Homo sapiens: one gene and its partners. Each later gene encodes a partner of the first gene's protein in a complex. Each region holds a gene or a part of one and is shown in the gene's direction. Other genes may lie near its edges.

What was found.
Region 2: the proteins of PPP2CA (region 1) and PPP2R3B are in contact, whole or in part, in a crystal structure (PDB 4I5L), measured with the Homo sapiens proteins. Residues at the interface, in NP_002706.1 of Homo sapiens: Cys20 (codon at 5,140), His63, Tyr91, Tyr92, Arg135, Lys136, Tyr267, Arg268, Arg294, Arg295, Gly296; in NP_037371.2 of Homo sapiens: Met410, Leu432, Asp436, Cys439, Gln440, Met441, Leu442, Asp443, Leu444, Lys446, Glu450, Gly451, Lys462, Leu463.
Region 3: the proteins of PPP2CA (region 1) and PTPA are in contact, whole or in part, in a crystal structure (PDB 4LAC), measured with the Homo sapiens proteins. Residues at the interface, in NP_002706.1 of Homo sapiens: Arg89, Gly90, Tyr91, Gln122, Gln125, Val126, Tyr127, Gly128, Asp131, Glu132, Arg135, His191, Asp205, Arg206, Pro213, Arg214, Gly215, Gln242, Leu243, Val244, Met245, Asn249, Asn264, Cys266, Tyr267, Arg268, Cys269; in NP_821068.1 of Homo sapiens: His31, Thr32, Val33, Ser133, Arg134, Phe135, Lys138, Arg141, Asn180, Thr182, Arg183, Arg235, Glu237, Pro238, Gly240, Ser241, Gln242, Gly243, Val244, Trp245, Asp248, Asp249, Phe250, Phe294, Ile295, Met298, Lys299, Thr300, Ala304, Glu305.

Annotation. Positions count from the first base shown.
Region 1 is NC_000005.10:134,223,025-134,230,943, reverse strand, and holds the start of PPP2CA (serine/threonine-protein phosphatase 2A catalytic subunit alpha isoform), read left to right. Parts: upstream 1-4,870; 5' UTR 4,871-5,082; coding exon 5,083-5,184; exon of another isoform or gene 5,185-5,187; intron 5,188-5,389; exon of another isoform or gene 5,390-5,735; intron 5,736-7,919. UniProt on the Homo sapiens protein: Catalytic subunit of protein phosphatase 2A (PP2A), a serine/threonine phosphatase involved in the regulation of a wide variety of enzymes, signal transduction pathways, and cellular events.
Region 2 is NC_000023.11:355,908-362,907, reverse strand, and holds part of PPP2R3B (serine/threonine-protein phosphatase 2A regulatory subunit B'' subunit beta), read left to right. Parts: intron 1-575; exon of another isoform or gene 576-653; intron 654-1,317; coding exon 1,318-1,503; intron 1,504-7,000. UniProt on the Homo sapiens protein: The B regulatory subunit might modulate substrate selectivity and catalytic activity, and might also direct the localization of the catalytic enzyme to a particular subcellular compartment.
Region 3 is NC_000009.12:129,107,145-129,114,414, forward strand, and holds the start of PTPA (serine/threonine-protein phosphatase 2A activator), read left to right. Parts: upstream 1-4,270; 5' UTR 4,271-4,327; coding exon of another isoform or gene 4,328-4,456; coding exon 4,457-4,487; intron 4,488-4,543; exon of another isoform or gene 4,544-4,647; intron 4,648-7,270. Other genes in the region: CRAT (carnitine O-acetyltransferase), read right to left, coding at 670-933, 1,959-1,988. UniProt on the Homo sapiens protein: PPIases accelerate the folding of proteins. It catalyzes the cis-trans isomerization of proline imidic peptide bonds in oligopeptides. Acts as a regulatory subunit for serine/threonine-protein phosphatase 2A (PP2A).

The DNA of each region.
Region 1 (7,919 bases):
GGTTTTCCCAGCCTTCTGGAGTGATGAACTTTGCCTTCCATTTCAGAGTTTTTTTTTCCTGTAATGGAAAAATGTCTCCTTTTGTAACTGAGAATACTATCCAGACATCAGGGGCATCACCAGGGGACATGGTCATTTCTCTCTTTTTTCTTTAGCCGGACTGTAGAAGCTGGAGGAAAAGGCAGTATATCTGTGGCAAAGTTCCTGGCCACAAAATTTTGGCTACATTTATAAAATTCTAATTCCAGGTGAAAGGGGAATATAAACTTAATTTTTCTGAAAACTACAAAGAACAGAGACAGATACCAATGAGCTGCAGGCATCATTGTGTAAGCTGAGTGCAGAAATCGTCTGGTAGCTGGGCAGGCGTCGTTGGCCAGAGCATGGCAGGCTTTCCATGGCCAAAGCCACTAAGATTTTGACTGCTCAGGACTTCATTTTGGGGCTTCTGGGGCATAAAAGGCCTTGGTACAAAGAGCATGTTATCCTTTTCAACTATGGCACCCTTTTCAGATGTAAGATTCTGAGCTGACAGGAGCATGGGACCGATTGTATTAATTCTTGGATTTAGTCCTAAGTAACTTTTTCTCTATATAACAAGTCTAAATGGATGGCAAGGCAAGAGAGGAGTTGTTCTGTTTATTCCATCTCTACCTCTCCTTGAATTTCCTCCTTCATCCCCACTTCATCCAATGGCTTTGTGTTTACATGATGTTTTTATTTTATTTATTTATTTATTTTGAGACAGAGTCTCACTCTGTCACCCAGGCTGAAGTGCAGTGACGTGATCTCAGCTCACTGCAACCTCTGCCTCCCAGGTTCAAGCAATTCTCCTGCCTCAGCCTCCCGAGTAGCTGGGATTACAGGCACCCACCAGGACGCCTGGCTAATTTTTGTATTTTTAGTAGAGACGGGGTTTCACCATGTTGGCCAGGCTAGTCTCGAACTCCTGACCTTCAGTAATCCACCCGCCTCAGCCTCCCAAAGTGCTGGGATTACAGGCCACTGTGCCCGGCCTACATATTTTTGATACCTCTATTTCTGTTTCCTAACACCACTATGTATTTCACTGCAGATATGAAGGACTCCAACTGGCATTAGAGGTTATGTATTTAAAATCCAAGCCCACTTAGAAATTATAATAATAAATAACAACATCTAGCACTTATTATACATTAATTAATACTATTTTGGTGTTATTTATTTATTTATTTTTGAGACAGAGTCCTGCTCTTTTGCCCAGGCTGGAGTGCAGTGGCGCGATCTTGGCTCACTGCAGCCTCTGCCTCCCGGGTTCAAGCTATTCTCTTGTCTCAGTCTCCTGAGTAACTGGGATTACAGGCACACACCACCACACCTGGCTAATTTTTTTGTAGTTTTAGTAGAGATGGTGGTTTGCCAGGTTGGCCAGGCTGGTCTCGAACTCCTGACCTCAGGTGATCCACCTGCCTCAGCCTTCCAAAGTGCTGGGATTACAGAAGTGAGCCACTGCGCCCAGCCTGGTTTTATTTATTTATAATTTCATTTAATTCTCAGAATAACCTTATTATTTTTCTATTATAATTATTCCCACTTTATAGATGAGAAAACCAAGACTCAGAAAAGTTAGGTAACTTGCCAAAGTTCACACATCTAGGCGGTTGCAGAACCAGAATTCAAACCCAGTTCCATCTGACTCCAGAGTCGTTTCTGACACTGGTCTACTTTCTGTCTCAGTAAGTTTAGAAGTCAGGGAACTGGAAGGAACAACAACAAAAAAATAAACCTAACTTAATGCCAAGAGAATTGCTGACAAGATATATCTCATTCCTACTCCATGTTTAATGTCAATTTTTGTATCTTGGGTAGGGTGCCTATTATAAAGCTATTTGCTCAAGGTTATCCTCCTCCTACCCCGCCCCCATCATCAGATGATTTTTATTTATAGCTATGTTTAAACATCATGGGCAACACTCAGACTTGCTGTATATTGAATTTGCCATCAGAGCAAAGATTCTTTCTCAAAGCATATTTGCTTTATTTACTCTCTGGTGTTTCCCAATAAATTAAAAAGACAATTCTTTTTGGTTTGCTTTAAATTTTTTGTTCCAAATATTCTTCAGCTCTAGAATTGAGTCAGTGAGGTCAAATTAGTCAAGACCAGATAAGTCAAAATGAATTTTCATTTTCATGTCCATTAGATATTTTGTTCTACAGAATACACAATCTGAATTTCTTCTAAAGAAAAATATATCCTGATTAATTTACTTCTGTATTGTTTATGATCATGTATGCTTTACTTCACTGTCTGATGCTAAGAGCTTCCTAGAATTCATTCCTTAAGAAGTTAAGTCATGGCATTTAATTATTTGGCAGGATGTTTTAAGTACATATAATTATTATATCTTCCCTCCATTTTGTGATGGTGGTGAGCCAAGTAATCTGCATCAAGAGAAAATAAATAACACCTACATTAATGCTACCAACAAGGGGCTCACAGTACTTTGGAAAAACTCATAATTTTAGCACACAGTGGGTGTTCAATACTTCATCATCTATCAAACTAACATCACCACACCCTTTCCAGGTAAGAGAATCTAGGCAGGCTGGGTGCGGTGGCTCACACCTGTAATCCCAGCACTTTGGGAGGCTGAAGCAGGCGGATCACCTGAGGTCAGGAGTTTGAGACCAGCCTGGCCAACGTGGCGAAATCCGTCTCTACTAAAAATATAAAAATTACCCGGGCATGGTGGCGGGTGCCTGTAATCCCAGCTACTTGGGAGGCTGAGGCAGGAGATTTGCTTGAACCTGGGAGGCAGAGTTTGCAGTGAACCGAGATTGCACCACTGCACTCCAGCCTGTGCAACAGAGTGAGACTCTGGCTCAAAAAAAAAAAAAAAAAAAAAAAAAAAAGAGAGAGAATCTAGGCAAAGAGAAATAATGTTGATTCTGTTCCATATGTCAGACCTTGGAAGGTCAACTGCATGACTGTGGCTGAGACTTTGTACTTGGGAGTGTGCAGTTTTAAATCCTGACCACTATCTTAGGCAAGTCCCTTCTCTTTTCTGAGTGCCTGTCTGCTTCTTGCCCCATCAGACAGTTCTCACACAGGTTCATGGCAACGGTAAAGAATAAGATTAGACAGCACACTGGGTATGGCTTTATAATCACGGGCACTAAGTGATGATTTTTTCCTTATTCATTCCACTTGGTCTTAACTCTTACCCTTCTATTGTTTGGGGATGTTAACTGCAAAACAGGGACAGAATTTGGGCTAAAGGGTCTTTTTCCCAGTCTGGTAAATTAAGTATGTGATAAGACTTCTAGAAGAGTAGATTTAAGGTACTTTCTTTTGTGCACACTAATGGGAGGTGTGAAGGGAAAGCAGAATTGCAATTTCCAGCCTAGGGAGGCCAAGCCAGTCGGCCTTGCCAAACACGTTGTCTTGGATAAAGGAGGATTTTCAGTCCTGCTATTGGCTGATGGGGCCTCCAGTGCCTTCTTCAGCCTGTTGGTGGGGATGATGCCCTCAGAGCCGCAGAGTGAGCAGTCTCCTCCCAAGCATCGCTGAGCACTTGGGTGTGGAAGGGTTGCCTGATACTGAGGGTGGGGTTCCTGGAAGACAGGCGATCAGGTTCAGCTCTTGCCTTGCCCTTTATGGTTAAATGTTCTTTGGAAAGCTTCTATATCTTTCAAATCCTGGGGGCATTATGATCTCTCTTCTGCCTATCCCAAACCATCTTCAGCCAGTACTGTTGGGAGAATACAAGCTCCAGGGCATGGTCCCTGGTCCGTCTGGATGACCCCTCCGGATCTGGCATATAGCTGGCGCTCTATGGAACCAGATATTTATGTAAAAGCAGGGACAATGGAATGTGAAAACGTTTCGCAAACTCCAAAGCGATTCATAACCAGACAGAGGTCCAATCCTAGGGTATACGAGCTCTCTCTTTTAAGCACGTATCACAGCTGCTTCTCACGCCACCGAGACGCGGTCAGGACAGGTGCATCCATCTTCTCTGGGCTTCCCCTCTTGAAAGTAGGCCAGGGCGCGCAGGGGTTGAGGGTCTCTCATTCCCAGAGAGAATTAAACTTGGAGGAAAGCAACCACCGGCGAGGAGCGGGGCGCGTGGAAGCGAGCCGCGGTCCGAGGCCCAAAGAAAAGCCCAAGCCTCGCCCCCGCCATCGCGCCCGACGAGACACCTAGGTCCGGGGACGGGTGTGTGCCGCGGAAGTCAGGTGCACTGCGCAGCACTCCCCCGGTAGGTACACGCTCCTCCACCTACGAGTGACCTAATTACAAGGTGCCAGCCGCGCCCAGAGGTGGGGGTGGTTAATCCAAGCGGCCACTCGCTGCCCGTTCCTGCCCCCAAAGATGACGGAAACCCACACGATTACAGAGCCGCAGCACCCCAGATGAGCCACGGGGTCGCAATTCTCGTTTCCGTGATCGGACTGCCAGGCCCCAGGTGAGGAGCTGAGTTCATCACCAGAGCGGCCTTCCCAGGGGAACCAGTTACAGGCTGCCAGTGGCCCCGGCTTCCATCCGGTCTGCGCCTGCGCGCGGCCCAAGCCCTCGCCTCTCCTGGAATAGTGCTCAGGGATTAGTCCGGTTCGCCGCTGTGCGCACTGCGCATGCTCCAGCTCCATCCTTCCCTTCCCCCACCACCCCGCCCTCCGGGAGCCACGCCCAAAAAGTCAAGGCGCTTCAGTTACCAGCCGGCTACGTCGCGCCTGCGCTTTGACCCCCAGTTTGCGCCCCAACTCCGGTCGTGCGGCCGCCCGGGGAGGGCTCTGCAGTTGCGCAGCTTGCTCCCCGGCCCTTTTCCCCTCCGCTCCCCGCCGCCTCCTGACGCCGGGCGTGACGTCACCACGCCCGGCGGCCGCCATTACAGAGAGCCGAGCTCTGGAGCCTCAGCGAGCGGAGGAGGAGGCGCAGCGGCCGACGGCCGAGTACTGCGGTGAGAGCCAGCGGGCCAGCGCCAGCCTCAACAGCCGCCAGAAGTACACGAGGAACCGGCGGCGGCGTGTGCGTGTAGGCCCGTGTGCGGGCGGCGGCGCGGGAGCAGCGCGGAGCGGCAGCCGGCTGGGGCGGGTGGCATCATGGACGAGAAGGTGTTCACCAAGGAGCTGGACCAGTGGATCGAGCAGCTGAACGAGTGCAAGCAGCTGTCCGAGTCCCAGGTCAAGAGCCTCTGCGAGAAGGTGAGCTGTAGTACGGCTGCGGACAGCCGCCGCGGGGCCGAGCCCGCCGAGGAAAAGGCGGCCGTGAGGAGGGTGCAACATGGCGGAGGCCGCCGGTCCGGGCCCCCCGAGTCTCCGAGACCGGCGCCCATCCTGGCCGGCGGCGGCTTCCTAACGACCCGGCGCCCCCTGCCTCCCGCGCAGGGATTGGTTGCCGCCGCCGCCTAAAATGGCGCCGTTCACTCGACTCCTGGGCTTTTGAGTCAGCCGGCCTTGGCGCCAGACGAGGTGGCAGGGGGAGCGGAGACCCTGTGGGTCATCGTCAGGGACGGTTTTGAGGGTGAGCTGGCTTGGATTCTGCGGCTTGGGAATGGAGCCTGGGCCTCTCCGGTGGGCTGAGTAAGAGTCTTGCCGCTGGTACCCAGGCCTAGTTAGGTCCAGAGCTGCCCAGAGGATCCCCCAAAGGCAGTCTTGTTAGGCCGTATCCCAGAACATACCTAAAGGTCACACAGCTTTAGTACCCCTTGGTGGTTTGTATTAAACTCACCAAGCGATCTTCTCCAGAAATCAAGGTAAGGGGTGTCTTTAAGAATTTTTAAATTATTCTCTTAACCTAATTTTTACGAAGGTCATGGTGGTAGCTATAAGGGAGGAGTGTAACTTATTTTTCATAGTTGGAAGAAATCGGGAATTTGGTGAGTCATACTACATAAGGAGCTTTTGGATTGGAAATCAAGTGTCGGTTGAATATGATTTATATGCTGACTCAAAGCCTTCTCTAAGCTTAACACACTTGGCATTTTGCCGTTTATTTTTAAAATGAACAACATAAAATGGAAGAGCGGTAAATTTTGTATCTTTGTTGCAAAAATTACTTGATAGTATTTTGTGGCTGCAAGTAGTAGTAGTGATAATAACTGTCGACTGAGATTGTATTCCAGACATTGTGCTTAGTGTTTAAATAATGTCTCACATACACTGAAAATAGAATGTTGTAGTCCACTTAGTAACACTAAACTTTATATTAGCTAATTCCCTTTTGTTTTCCCCTGGGGGTTGGGGAAACAGGTAGTTAATTTAGCTATTAGCTTTGTGTTGTATTTTTAAATTCTTGTAACTCAGTTTTCTAAAGTACACAAAATGCTGATCTCTGCTGTGAACATTTTAACTTCCCTTTTCAAAATTAACTTTGCAGCACGTCACTTTAGTACAGAATAGTGGAGTATCATATTAGCATTTTGTATCCGTGAAAAGAATTAATGGAGAACTATTATCCTGATTTGTTTCTGGTTTGATGTGAAAATTAGGTTCATGAGTTTGACGTATATGTTTCCAAGACAGGCTTTTTTAGAAACCATGTTGTGAACAATTGGAATTTAAGTAAGTCAGATTTAGATTTGTTTCTCCCAAGCCTGAACAAAACTACTACTAGTGGATGAGGTGGCACATCATCTGTTGGAGATGCCTTTTAATGGTAGCGATGTATTGAATCTCCTGTTTCTTTACCCTCTCACGTCAAATGAGGTTGGTATTTATTTTAAAGGTTTAAAATTGGCCTTTAAAAATGAATGTATATTGCCAGGTCTTAATTTCTAGGTACTGTACATGATGATCTTACCGATTTTTGGAATTCAGTGCATTATATGAAAGACTTTTAAGTCAGTAGTTGGCCAGTTGACTAGTCTTTTGAAGAAAACGTGGAAAGGAGGGAGGTAATGACGTAACTGGAAGACTGGACTGCGAGTTAGATTTGGACATGAGTCCTTCTGCTCTTACTTGAGTAATTGTGACAGACTTTGGGACAGCCACTTCACTTGTCCTTGTTTTCCTGTCTATAAACTAAAATGTGTTCTGAGATTATACAGTCAATTCCGTTTTAAATTAGTAGTGTGTTTAATATTGAACATCTATTGAATATCTAAGATTGCATACTCTTTTGAGGGAAATGAAAAGCAATGAAGAATAAGTATGCTTATTGTCGAGGAGCTATGAATCTAGTTTGAAAGAAAAGCATGGTATGAAAAGGTGTGGGAGATGGAGCATGGAAGTAGAGGGTTTGTGTTGGAAACTGTTGTAGAAGATAAGATAATACTGGATGCTAGAGTGGGGTGGGTGAAGCTGATGCATCTAATATTGCTTTCCACATCTTTGTAAAACTAAGATGTAGTGAGGTAAATCTCCATTGCTTGCGCTGCTTACGCAAATTTTAGTTCTGAGTGCCAAAAAAGATGGAAATAATATTTGAGAGTAGGTGTTATATAAAAGTTTCTGTGGAATGGATCCGTTTTGGTGGATATCATTATACAACCTTCATACTGTTTATAACTGGTAAGTAAGTATTTCAACTTTCAGGATGATATTAAACTTCCAAACTAAATTAATTTGAAGACAGTTTTTTGGGTATGTAGAATCCATGAACTGATGTTTTTTGTACAAGTCTTTCTAGTAAAACAAAAGCTGTCTTTCACTGTTAATATTTGTGTGCCAATGGCATCTCTGGGTGAAAGCTACATATGTGCTTTTTGGTGTGATTGCCTTCTAAAGAGTAATTTTGAAAATTTGAGGGCTAATTTTTTTCATTAGTGTATAATAATAGTATTTTTTGAGAAAAAAGATACTTGTTAATAGTTGATAATTTCTTCAATCATAAGAAGGAATGATAATGTAAAAGCCTTCCTTCTACCCACCTAAATGCCTGATTTGAAGGGGAAATATTTAAATAGTAAAAATAGATGTATACCATAAGAGGTCATTGT
Region 2 (7,000 bases), on another chromosome or scaffold:
GGCGCTGTGGGACCCTTGTGACCTGCGGTGAGGATACTGTGGCAGTAGCAGGGTGGGGACAGTTGGGGTGCTGTCTGTGGGACCCTTGTGACCTGGGGTGAGGGTCCTGTGGGAGTAGCAGGGCGGGCTGTTTTCTCTGTGTGGACACTGGAGCTTGGACCCAGTCCTGGATTGATCCAGGCAGTCAGGATTGTGGGTGCAAAGGCCCTGAGCTGTGGTCCACTGGTATGCGGACTTCCTCCCTGGACCCCTCCTCCATGGCAGTTGGTTGAGGAGGACACAGCCCCGTCCCCTGAGTAGTTGATGGAGGAGGAGGAGGACGCAGCCCCATTCCCTAGGTAGTTGGTCAAGGAGGACACAGCCCTGTCCCCTGAGTAGTTGATGGGGGAGGACGAAGCCTCGTCCCGAGTAGTTGATGGGGAAGGACACAGCCCCGTTCCCTGGGTAGTTGGAGGAGGAGGAGGACGCAGCCCCGTCCCTTCAGTAGTTGATGGTGGGGGAGGACGCAGCACCGTCCCTTGGGCAGTTGATGGAGGAGGACGCAGTACGGTTGCTGATGCTGTTAACTGTTTCAGATGGTGTTTTAACATCACGGGATGAGATCAAATGTCCACCTCGCAGGTTGTGTAGAGATGCAAGCAGGAGACTCTTGAGTGAGTGTTCTGGGGCCTGCAGATATACTGGGTGAGGAGAGTGCTGGTGCTGAGTGGGGCCAAGAGCCCGTGGGCGTGGGCTGTGCACCGGGTGAGGGGCTGAGGCGTGTCCGCAGCAGTACCTGGTGGTCGACCCCTTCTCCTGGCTGTGTGGTTGCCTGCCCTGCCTCTGCCTCTCAGAATGTGAGTCTTCCGGGCTCCAGGGACAGGGTTGCCTGTGGACGGCACCTGTGCCTCTCCACGTCTGAGCTCTCAGGCGTCTGGGGTGCGTGGCTGCCCTTTTCCCCAGGTCCCTGCCAGGTGTGGTGGGGTCAGTGGTGTGGCTCATGGGAATCGGGAGTGGGTCCTGGCTGGGCTCTCAGGTGCCTGGGGCACGTAGCTGCCCTTGTCCCCAGGGCCCTGCTCGGTGTGATGGGGGCTCAGTGGCGCAGAGCCGCCACCCAGAGTGGGGTCCATGGCAGCATGGTGTGGCCTCCTGGGTGAAGGTGGGCCCTGCAGTGGAGTACGTGTGTGGTCCCCCGCAGGGATTGCAGTGTGTCCTCTCCCGGCTGGGATCAGGTGGCCTCAGCACTGTCGGCCCTAGAGAGGCCCCGTGTGTTGTCCGGGTGAAGAAGGCGTTCGATGCTCCCAGGTTCTAACTGAGCGCTGTCTGTCGACTCTTCAGGTTCAGACACGGAAAGAAGAGCCTCTGCCCCCGGCCACGAGCCAAAGCATTCCGACCTTCTACTTCCCCAGAGGACGCCCGCAGGACTCCGTCAACGTGGATGCCGTCATCAGCAAGATCGAGAGCACCTTCGCCCGGTTCCCCCACGAGAGGGCCACCATGGATGACATGGGCCTGGTGGCCAAGGTACGTGTCACGCGTGGGACGTGGAGCAGCCGAGGTGGTACTGCGGGCATGTGAGGGTGAGGCGGAGCGGCCGTGGTGGGTGCGTGTCACACGAGCGTGAGTGAGGCGGCACGGCCGAGGAGGGTGCGTTTCACACGTGTGCGGGAGCGGCCCAGGTTTTCTCTGAGGTTATAGTTGTGGTCTGAGGTTTGCTGTCTGGTTGCTGCTGTGTGAATTCTTAAGCATCTGAAATGCGAGTGGGAATTCCGTCTGCATTCTCATCCTGATGCTGTGAAGAGCGCAGGCCCGCCCTGTGCCACCCTCCCCTTCTCTCCCCTCCGGGGCCAGTGGCGCCAGCTCTCGTGGCTCTCGGAGGCCGTTCTGCACCCTCCTGGCCTTGCCCCTTTCTGCCCGAGGAGCGGCCATCCCAGGCTGGGCAGCTGTGGACCCGTCTCCTGGCAGCAGCCCCATGGGCCCATTTCTAGACTCACCCTGAGTGCTGCGGCGCGGCGTGCATCATTCGCCGCCTGCTTTCCTTCTCAGCTGCATGCTCTCCAGGCTGACCGCCTGGACGCCCACAGATGGAGCACACTCAGTTTAGTGTCTGTCCGTTACCAAGGCAAGGCCTACACCAGAGATGCGTGTCTGGACCCCTGGTGGGTGGTTGTGTTTCCAGGGACCTGTGCCCGCATCTCCAGCCTCCTACCCTCCAGGTGGAGTCGCTGGCCAGTGGATGCTCCCACCCCTCCAAGTCAGAGCCCCAGAGCCTCGGTGCACGGTACATGTGAGCCCCTCACGGTGAGACCCCTGCCCCCCAGCCCTCTCCAGCTCTGCAGCTGTGAAGGGGGTCCTCGGGAGTGAGCAGGTTTTTGTTTTTTGGGTTTGCTTGTTTGAGACAAAGTCTTGCTCTGTCACCCAGGCTGGAGTGCAGTGGTGTAATCTCGGCTCACTGCAACCTCCACCTTCTGGGTTCAAGTGATTCTCCTGCCTCAGCCTCCCAAGTAGCTGGGACTATAGGCATGCACCACCATGCCTGGCTAATTTTTATATTTTTAGTAGACATGGGGTTTCACCATATTGGCCAGGCTGGTCTTGAACTCCTGACTTCAAGTGATCCGCCTGCCTCGGCCTCCCAAAGTGCTGGGATTACAGGCATGAGCCACTGCACCTGGCCGGGTTTTGTTTTTTTAACTTATTAATACAGTCTATTAAATGAGTTGGTTTTGGGATGTTAAACCAACCTTGCATTCCTGGGATAAATTCCGCATGGTCGCTGTGTCTCATCTTTTTTATATGTTGCTGGATTCCAATAATTTTGCAACTGGATTCACAGAGAAGACAGTGCTTGGTAGTTTTCTTGTGAGTCCTTTGTCTGGTTTTGGTTTTAGGGCAATACGGGTCTGAAAGAACACATTAAGTGTCCCCGCCCTTTTTCTATTAGGGATTGTGTTTTTAAAGTATTTTAAAAAGTTTTGTTTTATAAATATGTAAAAACCTCCATGGTTACAAAGTGAGCACTAACAAACTAGACACATTCAGGTAAGTCCAGGTTCTGTCCCTGTCTGTGCTGTTTCTACCCCAGAGGTAATAGTTTCCATAGCTTTGGTTTATCCTCTTATTGTTATTTTAGCTTTTAATATGAGCAATTATGTACAAATATGTGTATGAGTATGAACATACATACTTCTTGCATTTCTTAGAGAAAAATTAGCATGCTGTTGTACACTTGCATATTTGTTTTTGCTAAGTCACTCCGTATTTGTAGAGGTGTCCCTGTCTTGTACGGCAGTGTGGGGCCATGAAAGGACCAGATAAGTCACAACCATGCAAAACCATCTTCCAGTAAAAATTAGGATCATTCTATAATCATTTTTGTTGAAATATTAGAAACTTTCTTACAGTCGGTTGCAAACATGTAGTGAATGAAAAGAACTAATATTTACCTAGTATGCTGTAACTTAAAACACCAGAAGCATTAAGAATTGTTTCATCTCTCAGTAAAAACTTGCCAAAAGTAGTTACAGCAGTGCCATCTCCTTGTCCCGTGTGGAGTGAGCACCTGCTCCGTGCCCTGGCAGACTCACTCGACTTAACACGCCTTGCTCAGCTTCCGCGTTTTATCCTTGGTGCTCTTGAAGTTGTGGGGTATCTCTGAGAGTTCCTTCACTGGGAGGTCTCTTTGCTGGCATTCCGTCTGCTGGGACACCTTCATCCTTTTCAGTACAGCCTCCGTTGTGTGGAGAACTCACCCTCGCGGAGTGCGCCCGGCCCCACCCACAGGGTCTCTGCGCGCCTCGGGCTGGGTCAGACACCTCTTTTGCAGCTCACGCGCTGCGTCCGCTTCGGGTCCTACAAAGCCGCTCGCGCAGCCCAGTGAGGTTCCTGCATGGGACCCATGTATTCCCCTCAGTGCTTCCCCGCCACGATGCCCCTCCCCGGCCGCGGTGCTTCCCCGCCAGGGCGCCGCCCCGCCCTCCCCTACCCCCGCCGCGGTGCTTCCCCGCCAGGGCGCCCGTCCCCACGGTGCTTCCCCGCCACAGCGCCCCTCCCCACGCGGTGCTTCATCCCCACGGTGCTTCTCCCCAACGGCGCCTCCCCCCACCGTGGTGCCGCCCCCCACAGCGGCCACCCCCCCTCCGCGGTGCTTCCCCGCCTCGGCGCCTGGTTCTCATGTGCGCGTTTCATGTCATTTTCCTTCCAGGACTCAGTTCTCGGTGTCACCTCGCTTCCACGCACAGCGGCACTGGCCTTGGTGGCCGTCTAAGGTAGTGAGGCTTTAAGACTTGAAAGAACCTGGTCCGTTGGCTGGATGTCACGTTTGGTGGTAAAAAGCAAGTTTTGTCGTTGTCTTCGACGCCCCAGAGAAGCAGGGTGACCTGGGTGTGACCCAGCGGGGCAGGGGAGAGCTCTGAGACTGAAGTTGTGTCGCTTGCAGCGTCTGCACCGCTGGGAGTCCGAGAGACACCTCCACAGGCCCCACTGTGCCTGCACGCACCGACCCGGCCCTGCAGGCGGAGAGCATGGTGCTCGAGCACCCACCGTGACTGTGGGCAGAGGCCAGCAGGGTGTGCGCTGTCGCGACTTAATCCACCTGCGCTGTGGCGGCAGAACCCTGTGAGCGTCCCGCGTGTGTGGGGGCCGCAGGCAAACTTCAGCTTCCCCGCCAAGGCTGCTGAGCCTGTCTCGGTGGCGCCCAGCTCGCCGCCACCTGCAGATGTCCGTCCACGTCTCCATCGTGTGCCTTTGGGACGGTTTTCTGTGAGCCGGGCCCCCGGCCCAGGGGACGAACGAGTAGGGGTGTCACTGCCGTTTCGAGTTCTCCCCGTCGCGTGAGTGACTGAATGAGGGCCTGGAGTCACAGCTCCACACGCGTGTTGTCAGGCGGGTGGACTTTGGCCGGCGGCTGCTTGAGAACTCACGTCTGAGGGGACTTTGAGTTTGATGAGGGGGGTCCCCCCGTGGATCTTAGCCGTGGCCGTGCAGCGAGGTCCGTGTGTGCCTTCTCCTGGCCCGGTTCTTCCTGTCTGTGTGAGTCAGGGCTGATCTCATACATCATTTCCTCCCTTTCATCATTGTCACTCCTCTGTGTTTTCTCTGAAGCCGTTTGAGACAGAGTCATCAGCTCCTTCACCTCCACCAAACTCCACCCCCTCAGCTGCCCCCACAGGAAAACACACTTTTCTCTTTGTTAATTTCCTTCAAACGTTGTTGGCTAATTCAGGGTTTTCATTTATGGAGACTATTTTGATGATTTACATTTTTTCTAAAAATTTTTTGCGTAACTTAGAAATTTCTTGCTCTAAAGCTTTTCCTTGTCTTGTACGATTTACAAAATCTTGATCGTATCTGCATCATACATAGACACTTTCTTGACAGAATCATTTATTTCCGGTTCCTTTCTTGATCCGTCATGCTACACACTAACGTATATCTCTTTCAGTAAAGCAGCTGTCAGTGTTACAGATTATTTCAGTTCTTTCTCTCATGAATATCTATGGTCATCTTTTTTACATACACTTCCTTCTGTCATTTTTTTTAGTTTATTGAATAGTTTTTTGTTTGGCCAGCTGTATTGTCATATAATTACACACCCTAAGATTCACCAATTTTAAGTGTACAATTTGATCCATTTTGGTAAAGCACACACCTGGGTATCCATCCTCATAGGCAGGACCGGCCGTTTGTCACCTGCCGCGGGTGTCCCACGTGCCTCCTTTTGCACCTCATCATTCCCCTCTTTTCTCCCTGGCCCGGGCCAGCTGCAGATGTGCTTCCGGTCGCTGTAGCTTTGCCTCTCTTAGAATTTCACATGAGGACTCTTGGAGCATTTTGTCTGTGGTTTCTAACTTCTTCCTGGCAGCATCTTTATTTTAAATTTTATTTTGAATGGACAAGTAATATTTGTGTATACAGGGTACAGCAAGATGTTTCGCTATGTGTGTGTGTTGAGGACTGATTAAGTCCTGTGGTGTGGATACTGTGGGGCTCGCTGTGTGGCTGGCGAAGGCGTGGTTACCGTGGGGCTCGCTGTGTGGCTGGCGGGGTGTGGATACTGTGGGGCTCGCTGTGTGGCTGGCCAAGGCGTGGTTACCGTGGGGCTCCCGTGTGGCTGGCCAGGGTGTGGATACTGTGGGGCTCACTATGTGTCCCTGGCCGTATGGGCAGTTTCTTTTCTATCACTGAGTAGCTTCTGCTGTGTGTGTGCTCCATCTCTCCCCTGTTCCAGGGTTGATAGACGTCTGGTTGCTTTGGTTTTTGCTTCTTGTGAGTAAAGCTGCTGTGTGTCTGTGCACTGATTTACGCAGACATGCTTGCATTTTCCTGAGGTGATTAATACCGCAGAGGTGAGCTCTGCCTCATCTGGTGGCCACATGTTTAGTTTTGTAAGAAGCTATAAAACTGCTTCCAGGGCCCAGGAGTGGTGGCTCACTCCACTAATCCCAGCACTTCGGGAGGCTGAGGTAGGCAGATCACCTGAGGTCAGGAGTTCGAGGCCAGCCTGGCCAACATGATGAAACCACATCTCTACTAAAAATACAAAAATTAGCCAGGTATGGTGGCGGGCACCTGTCATTCCAGCTACTCGGGAGGCTGAGACAGGAAAATCGCTTGAACCTGGGAGGTGGAGGTTGCAGTGAGCCAAGATCGCACCACTGCACTCCAGCCTGGGCGACTGAGCAAGACTGTGTCTCTACGCAAAAAAACAAAAAACAAAAAACCCTGCTTCCGGGGTGGCCCTGAGTGACGCATTTCCAGGCAGCAGCGTTGACCCCTGCGGGCACGTGGCCACACGCTTTGCCTTTAGCCGTTCTGTGCGTGTGCAGGCGTCCCGTCCTGGCTGCACTCCTCATTTCCCTGATGTACGTGTTGACCACCTTACGTGTTTCTTTCTCATCAGTTTGCCTTTTTTTCATTTTGGGGCAGCTGTGTTGAGATATAACTGATGTGGGATGCATGGTGCGTGTGGAAGGTACAATTCAATGAGCTTTGACGTCTGTACCCACCCATGAAACTATCC
Region 3 (7,270 bases), on another chromosome or scaffold:
TGCCTCAGCCTCCCCAGTATCTGGGATTACAGGTGCGTGCCACTACGCCTGGCTAATTTTTGTATTTTTAGTAGAGACAGGGTTTCATCATGTTGGCCAGGCTGGTCCCGAACTCCTGACCTTGTGATCTGCCCGCCTTGGACTCCCAAAGTGCTGGGATTATAGGTGTGAGTCACTGCATCCAGCTGCCACTTTTTAAATCTGTGTATTGAAGTATGAGATGCAAATAGAAAAGCACACCAAACATTGGTGTAGACATATTTGCCAAACTGGGTACACCTGTGTCATAGATCAGATACAGAACCTGGGCGATCGGTCACTGAGTGACACATATCCCCTGCCTGAGGCTGTCCCACCAAGCACAAGGGCATCTTCTATCTGGTTGTACCTGCCGTGCACCCCACTCCTGCCTCTGTCCTGGAACATGAAACCTTGTCCACAACCTGTATCCTGTTCATTACCTTTCTCTCCTCCCTACTTGAATGTTAGCTCCAAGGAGCTGGTGACTGTGTCCTTCTTGATCACCCAGCACCCTGCCAAGTGCCAGACACAGAGTATGTGCTCACGAAACTCTGGGCAGCAAACGAACGGCCGTGCCAGAGCAGTGGGCACTGGAGAACTGTGCATGTGCAGCCAGCAGCAGGTCACAGTGAGGATGCCCTCACTCACCCAGTTCTCCGTCTTCCTGGCCCGACGCTCCAGCCCCTTCTGCAGGCGCTCCCCTACACCTCCTGAGGCCTGAAACTCATCCACCAGCTGCTTGGTGTGGGCCCACTCCTCCTCACTCACGATGGGCTGCAGCGCCTTCAGGTAGTGGTCCAGGGACTGCTGGAGAGGGGGCACGGGCAGCCGTGGCAGTGCATCCTGGTGTGCCTTGAAGCGGCTGGAAGCCTTCATCAAGGAGAAGGGCTTCAGGAAGCCCAGAGGCTTCACCTGCAGGTAGCAGAACATCCTGTTCATTCCCTCCCCGGCTCTGGAGCCCTGGCAGCCCCAAAGCTGTAGTCCTGGGCACTTAAGTGCCCATCCCTGGGGGCAGAGACGGCCTCTTGGGTGGGGCTGGCCCTGGCCTCCCAGCCCTAGAGCTCTAGGTGTCCCCGCCTCTCTGGGGCCTGGAGATGCAGGTAGGGATGGGGGAGGGTGGGGTGTGGCCATGGTTCTTAGCAAGGCTCAGGGGAACCAAGTCAGGATGAACGGCACCTTTGGGGTGGCAGAGGTGAGGGGGACCGCCCACCTGTTGGGTTGCACAGGCCCCTCCTTTCTCACCCTGGAAGAGGAGCCAGCCAGCAGAGTGGTGACTGTCCCTCTTGGAGGTCCCCACGTCCTTTTCTCCCACCCTTTCCAGGTTGAGAAACAGAAGGGAAGAAGAGAGAATCACAGAGAGCCAGACAATGGCAGCACCTTCGGGTGAGGGGCCTTGGGCTTCCTCCTGCCTTTGAGATGGGGCAGGGGTGGGGTGAGGGCAGTGCTGTGGCGAGAGAGCCGGGTGGCCTGGCATGGAGGGTGAGAGGCGGCAGAGAGAGAAAGAGAAAGTCCAGGAGGCCCTGGAGTGGGCAGAGACAGGAGGGCCCGAGGCTGCTCTTGCAGTGGGCAGGCGAGTGGCAGGAGCTCTGTTCCATACCTTCTCTCTCTGCTGCCCGTCCTCCTCCATGGCAGGACTGAGGTTCTGGGCCCTGTCTGTCTGCCTTGGCTGGATCTCTAAGCCTAACTGTGCTACAAAGTGAGTGAGCAGAACCTAGCCAGAGGCAGCCACTTGCCTGGGCTGGAAAGAGAAGACAAGAGCCAAGATTCAGCGGGAGGCAGGTGGCAGTGGCGATGGCTGTGGTGGAATCGGGGGTTGTGGCAGTGGCAGGGGAAGCTCCTGGACTCTAGAAGCTGCTCCACCCTCCCGAGCTCCCAGAAGTAGAGGAATGGGGAGCAGGTGAGAGGGCTAGTGGGGGGGCATTCCAGTAGAAGGGAACCTGGAAAGTTCTTTCCTTTCTTCTCTGCATGGGCTCAGTGCCAGGGAGTCAGGACAAAAGGTAATAAAAAATCCACCTGTCAGAATCTGCGAAGATCGTTTTGATGAGGGAAAACTTGGCTGGAGGACAGAGACTGCCTGGCCGCTGAGGTTACACCACAGCCCTGGGATCGGTCCTGAAATTAGGGTTGGTGCAAGGGAGCAGACACCAGGAAAAGGCCATCAGTGGATGGGACAGCCAGAAGCCCTGCCTATTTCCTGTTTCTCTCCAGGACTCCTGGGACCCATCTGAGCCATCCCTCTACGAACACTCATTTTTTCCTGAGCTGTGGCTCATTCAGCTAGGGTCCAAGAGCGGAGGACTTTTGGTATGAAAAATAAACCAAAGGACACTGGGATTGGGCTGGATTTGAATGAGCAGGTCCAGGGGACTCTGGGCAAGTCCCTCCTTGCCTCAGTTTCCCTGCAGGAAGGTAACCAGTCCAGTCGGATGGTCCTGGAGGATGATCTAGAGGCTGTTTGTGGGATGGATGCAGCTTGGGAGACAGTGACAAGGGTGCGGTGGAGGCTCAGGGTGTTGCAACACCTAAAAGAGCCTCTAGGCCTGAGCCTGGATGCACCCTCCGCCCTCTGGCCCCGTAGTGTGTGTCTGAGACAGAGTGAGACACCAGCAACATATGCTTGGATCAGGGACGGAAGGGACTGAAATTAGGCTAGCATCCGGGCTGCTCACCGGGGAGGACTGAGGGGTAGATATAGCCAGGGTGGGGAAGGGGGCTAGAGGGGAGGATATAGCCAGGGTGGGGAAGGGGGCTGGAGGGAAGGATACAGCCAGGGTGGGGAAGGGGGCTGGAGGGGAGGGAGACCATGGGGCTGCCACCTGCCAGTTCTGAGGCCTTTCTAGCTTGATGCCTCCGCGTGTTTCTCTGGCCACACACAATTCCCCAGGGACCGTCTGATAAACCAAAGGAGTGTGACCAACTGGACAGGGTCGGAGGAGTGGCTCTGGCCTAAGCGTGCGACGGGTGTGTCAATCGGAGAATAACTGGGAGAGTGAGCTAGGGTCTGGATGCTCCTGGTCTCTCTCCCCTACCGGCCTGTCTCTGGGTCTAAGGGTGGGGGTGCTAACTGAAGCCGGGGTCCCCCTTGTCTTTCCTGGGTCGTTGGAACTGAATGCTCCAGGACGTGGGTTTAATCCCGCTTCTGACCTTGCGCCCCAATCTCCTGCTCTGCCAAACCTGGGACGCCCGCCTGACCCCACCCCATCAGCTGGAGGCCGGGTCGAACAGCGGCCGCAGGACGCGGTCTCCGTTCCCGGACGCAACCGCACGGCCCGCCCAGGCCGTCCAGGGCCCTCAGGCCCGGGATCCGCCGCACTCACCACGGTCCTGGCAGCGAAGGCTAACATCTTCGCTGCCCGTCCGCGGACACGCAGTCCGCTCCGCCCCACACACCGGGCAAAGTCCGCGCCGCCGCCGCCGCGGCTGGGGTCGGTGGGTCCTTGCTAGAGCCTTCGGGCCAAGGTCGCTGAGTTACAGCCGCCAGCCGGTAGAGGCAGCCCCGCGCCCACCCTCTGGGCCGAGCGGGCTGCGGGAAGGCACCCGGGGAGGAGGACTCGCGAGGCGGGGCCTGGGCCGGTAGCGGGCCCCGGGCGGGCAACGGTGCCCGGGAGGTTGGCTGTGGGGCGGGGACGGGGCATCGATGGGGCGGAGTCTCCTTGAGGAGGGACAGGAGGGGCGGGGACGGAGGGGCGGGGCGTCGCCCGGTAGCGGGTCGCAGTAGGCTGGCTGCGAGTCGGGGGCGGGACCACGGCGGGCGGGGACAGAGGGGCAGGGCCGAGGGCGAGTCATTGAGACCTGTGGAGGAGGAAGGAGGAGGTCACCGTCCAGCTGTCTCTCCCCTGTCCCCACATGTCTTCTAAGCTGTTGGAGGTAGTGGTGTGCACCTTTCCAACTCCGTCTGGTGTCCTTGAGCCTAACTCTTAGAGTGATAGGAAAACACAACCATGTTGACCGGGGAATGTCCTCTAATATTCCTTGGGTTAGGGTCAGTACCACCCACAAAGATGACAGGTGGTACTCCGGGACAGGAGACTGTCCCGGAAAAACATGGCTGAGCACAACCCAAACTTGACGCCCCGCACAATCGTGGCAGTCGCGGCGCCCGACGTTCGGGCGGCCGTGAGCGGTCCTAGCGCTTGGCGGCCGTTGGCGCGCATGCGCCCCGCGCGCCCCGCACTGACATGGCCGTCGCCCGGTTCCGCGCGTCCGCCGCGCGCCGGCCGTTAATAGGCTTGCTCCCTGAGCGCCCCGCACCGACATGGCGGCCGTCTTCGCTGTGGTGACTTTAACTCTCGGTTTTCGGTTATAGCCGGCCGGCGCTCACTTGTCTTCAGGAAGCTCGGAGCCTTTGGTGGAGCCGGGGAGAGGAAGGGTGGGTGCAAGAGTGAAAGGCGAGAGGGGACTGCAAGCATCCGGGTCGGCTCCTGGCCGGAGCAAGATGGCTGAGGGCGAGCGGCAGCCGCCGCCAGGTAAGGCCGGCGGGGCCAGGCCGGGCCGGGGTCGGGTAGGGTGGGGGCGGTGCCAGGTGTGGGAGGCTCAGGAGGGCGAGAGTCATGACACGGAGGAACTGGAGGGGCAAAAGCTGAGGGGCCCCGAGGAGGGACTGAGTTGAATGGCCTTAGGGGAGAGGTGGGTGGTGGGGCGCCGCTGGGGAGGGAACCAGGGGCTGCAAAGGGGTGGTGATTGGGGCGCAACTCTGGGTTTTGTGGGAGTCCAGGCTGCCCGAATGCTGGGTGGGCAGCGCCGTGGTCATAAGGGGGCCTTTTGCATCTCTGGGCAGCGCGTGCTTAAGTAAGCTGCTGACTCGGTGGGGAAGCTGCCAGGGAGGGGGGCGAAAGTGATTCCGGAGGCTGCCGTCTTTATTAGTCGCTGCTTAGGGGATGGGGTGGTGCTCCGTGGGCCTGCGCCCGCCTCGCCTCCAGTTTCGGCCTCCGCGTCCTGCTCACCCCTCATCCTCCTACTCTCTGGTTCCAGTGCCTGAGAATTTATTGAGGGAAACTGCCCGTGGTGTCTAAATCCCTAATTTTAAAAGGCTGGTTGTGCAAGGAGGTTAGTCTCTCCGGCATCTCCTTCGGTAACTCTTATTTACCTTGTAGCCTCTTTTTAGTTCATCTTAAATAACTGGGATGGAGGTGCTACGGAAGGATCTTAGAGACCCTTTTTGTGCAGAAGGAGAAGGCTGTTTGCCGACCTACCTTGAACTAAGAAGGACTGGCCATAGATAACTTTTACATTCCCGACAGAGGCAAATAGGTTGGCCGACCAAACACAGCTAATGTTTTGAAAGCATTTGATATTCTTGCTATCCTGTCTCCAATGTTGGGGTCCCTGGGAAGGTCTCAGGAGGGAGAAATGTTGAAAATCAGAAAAGGCATCCCCTCCATGCCCCACAAAAGAGGTGAACAAAGAGCTGGGTTCCGTTTCTTAGGACATTCAAAACCAGACATTTATTTTGTACAAAACCTCTGGGTGTGTGCCCTTAGAACAAGGATGTCCAGGCCAGGCGCGGTGGCTCATGCCCGTAATCCCAGCACTTTGGGAGGCCGAGGCGGGCTGATCACCTGAGGTCGGGAGTTCGAGACCAGCCTGACCAACATGGAGAAACTCCGTCTCTTCTAAAAATACAAAATTAGCCGGGCGTGGTGACACACGCCCGTAATCCCAACTACTAGGGAGGATGAGGCAGGAGAATCGCTTGAACCTGGGAAGCAGAGGTTGCGGTGAGCTGAGATCGCGGCATTGCACTCCAGCCTGGACAACAAGAGTGAAACTCCGTCACCCCCCAAAAAAAAAACCGGGGTGTCCACTCTTTTGGCTTCTCTAAGCCACATTGGAAGCAGAATTGTCTTGGGTCACACATAAAATACACTAACACTAACGATGGCTGATGAGCTAAAAAAAAAGTCGCAAAAAAAAAAATCTCATAATGGTTTTGTGTTTCTTTTTTTTGAGACAGTGTCTCACTCTGTCCCCCAGGCTGAAGTGCAGTGGCATGGTCTCGGCTGACTGCACCCTCTGCCTCCCGGGTTCAAGCGATTCTCCTGCCTCAGCCTCCTGAGTAGCTGGGACTACAGGTGCGCCACCATGCCTGGCTAATTTTTGTATTTTTAATAGGGACAGGGTTTCACCATATTGGCCAGGCTGGTCTCGAACTCCTGACCTCGTGATCCTCCTGCCTCGGCCTTCCAAAGTGCTGGGATTACAGGCATGAGCCACCGTGCCTGGCCTATGTTTTAAGAAAGTTTACAAATTTGTGTCCGGCTACATTCAAAGCTGTCCTGGGCTGTGGGTTGAACAAGCTAGCCTTAGAAGTTCTGGTGATGACTCCGGGCACAGTGGCTCACACCTGTAATCCCAGCACTTTGGGAGGCCGACACAGGCGGATCACTTGAGGTCAGGAGTTCGAGACCAGCCATGGCCAACATGGCAAAACCCCGTCTGTATTCAAAATACAAAAATTAGCTGGGTGTGGTGGCACACGTCTGTAATCGCAGCTACTCGGGAGGCTGAGGCAGGAGAATCACTTGAACCCAGGAGGCGGAGGTTGCAGTGAGCCGAGATTGCTCCACTGCACTCCAGCCACTGCACCCCAGCCTGGGCGAGAGAGCTAGACTCCATCTCAAAAAAGAAAAAGTTCTGGTAAGGACATCAGGAGATAGGAGATATAAGGCAACCACTGTTATCAGTGAGATGAATGTGTCCCTGAAGATGAGTGGGGGTGGGGAGTGGGAGGAGAGAGAACCTGTGCCCTGAAAGAGAGCTGTGCTCAGGGAGGTTATCCGTGGCTGGAAACAGCCAGGTCCCTGGTTGTGGTCCTTTTTTGAAATTTGAAACAGAACTTTTGGGAACAGCTGGAAAGAACTTCTTCTTTTTAGTTTTTTTTTGAGACAGAGTTTCACTTTGTCTCCCAGGCCAGGGTGCAGTGGTGCAATCTCAGCTCACTGCAACCTCCGCCTCCTGAGTTCATGCGATTCTCGTGCCTCAGCCTCCCGAGTTGCTGAGGCGCCCACCACTGTGCCGGGCTAATTTTTTGTATTTTTAGTAGAGATGGGATTTCGCCGTGTGGGCCAGGCTGGTCTCGAACTCCTGGCCTCAAGTAATTCACCCGCCTTGGCCACCCAGAGTGCTGGGATTACAGGCGTGAGCCACCGCGCCCGGCGAGAAGTTCTTAATGTAATGATGAAAACTTTGGATTTTGGAGTCATACATATCTGGCTCTGCCTGGCAAGTCACAGCTCTGTGAGCCTCAGTT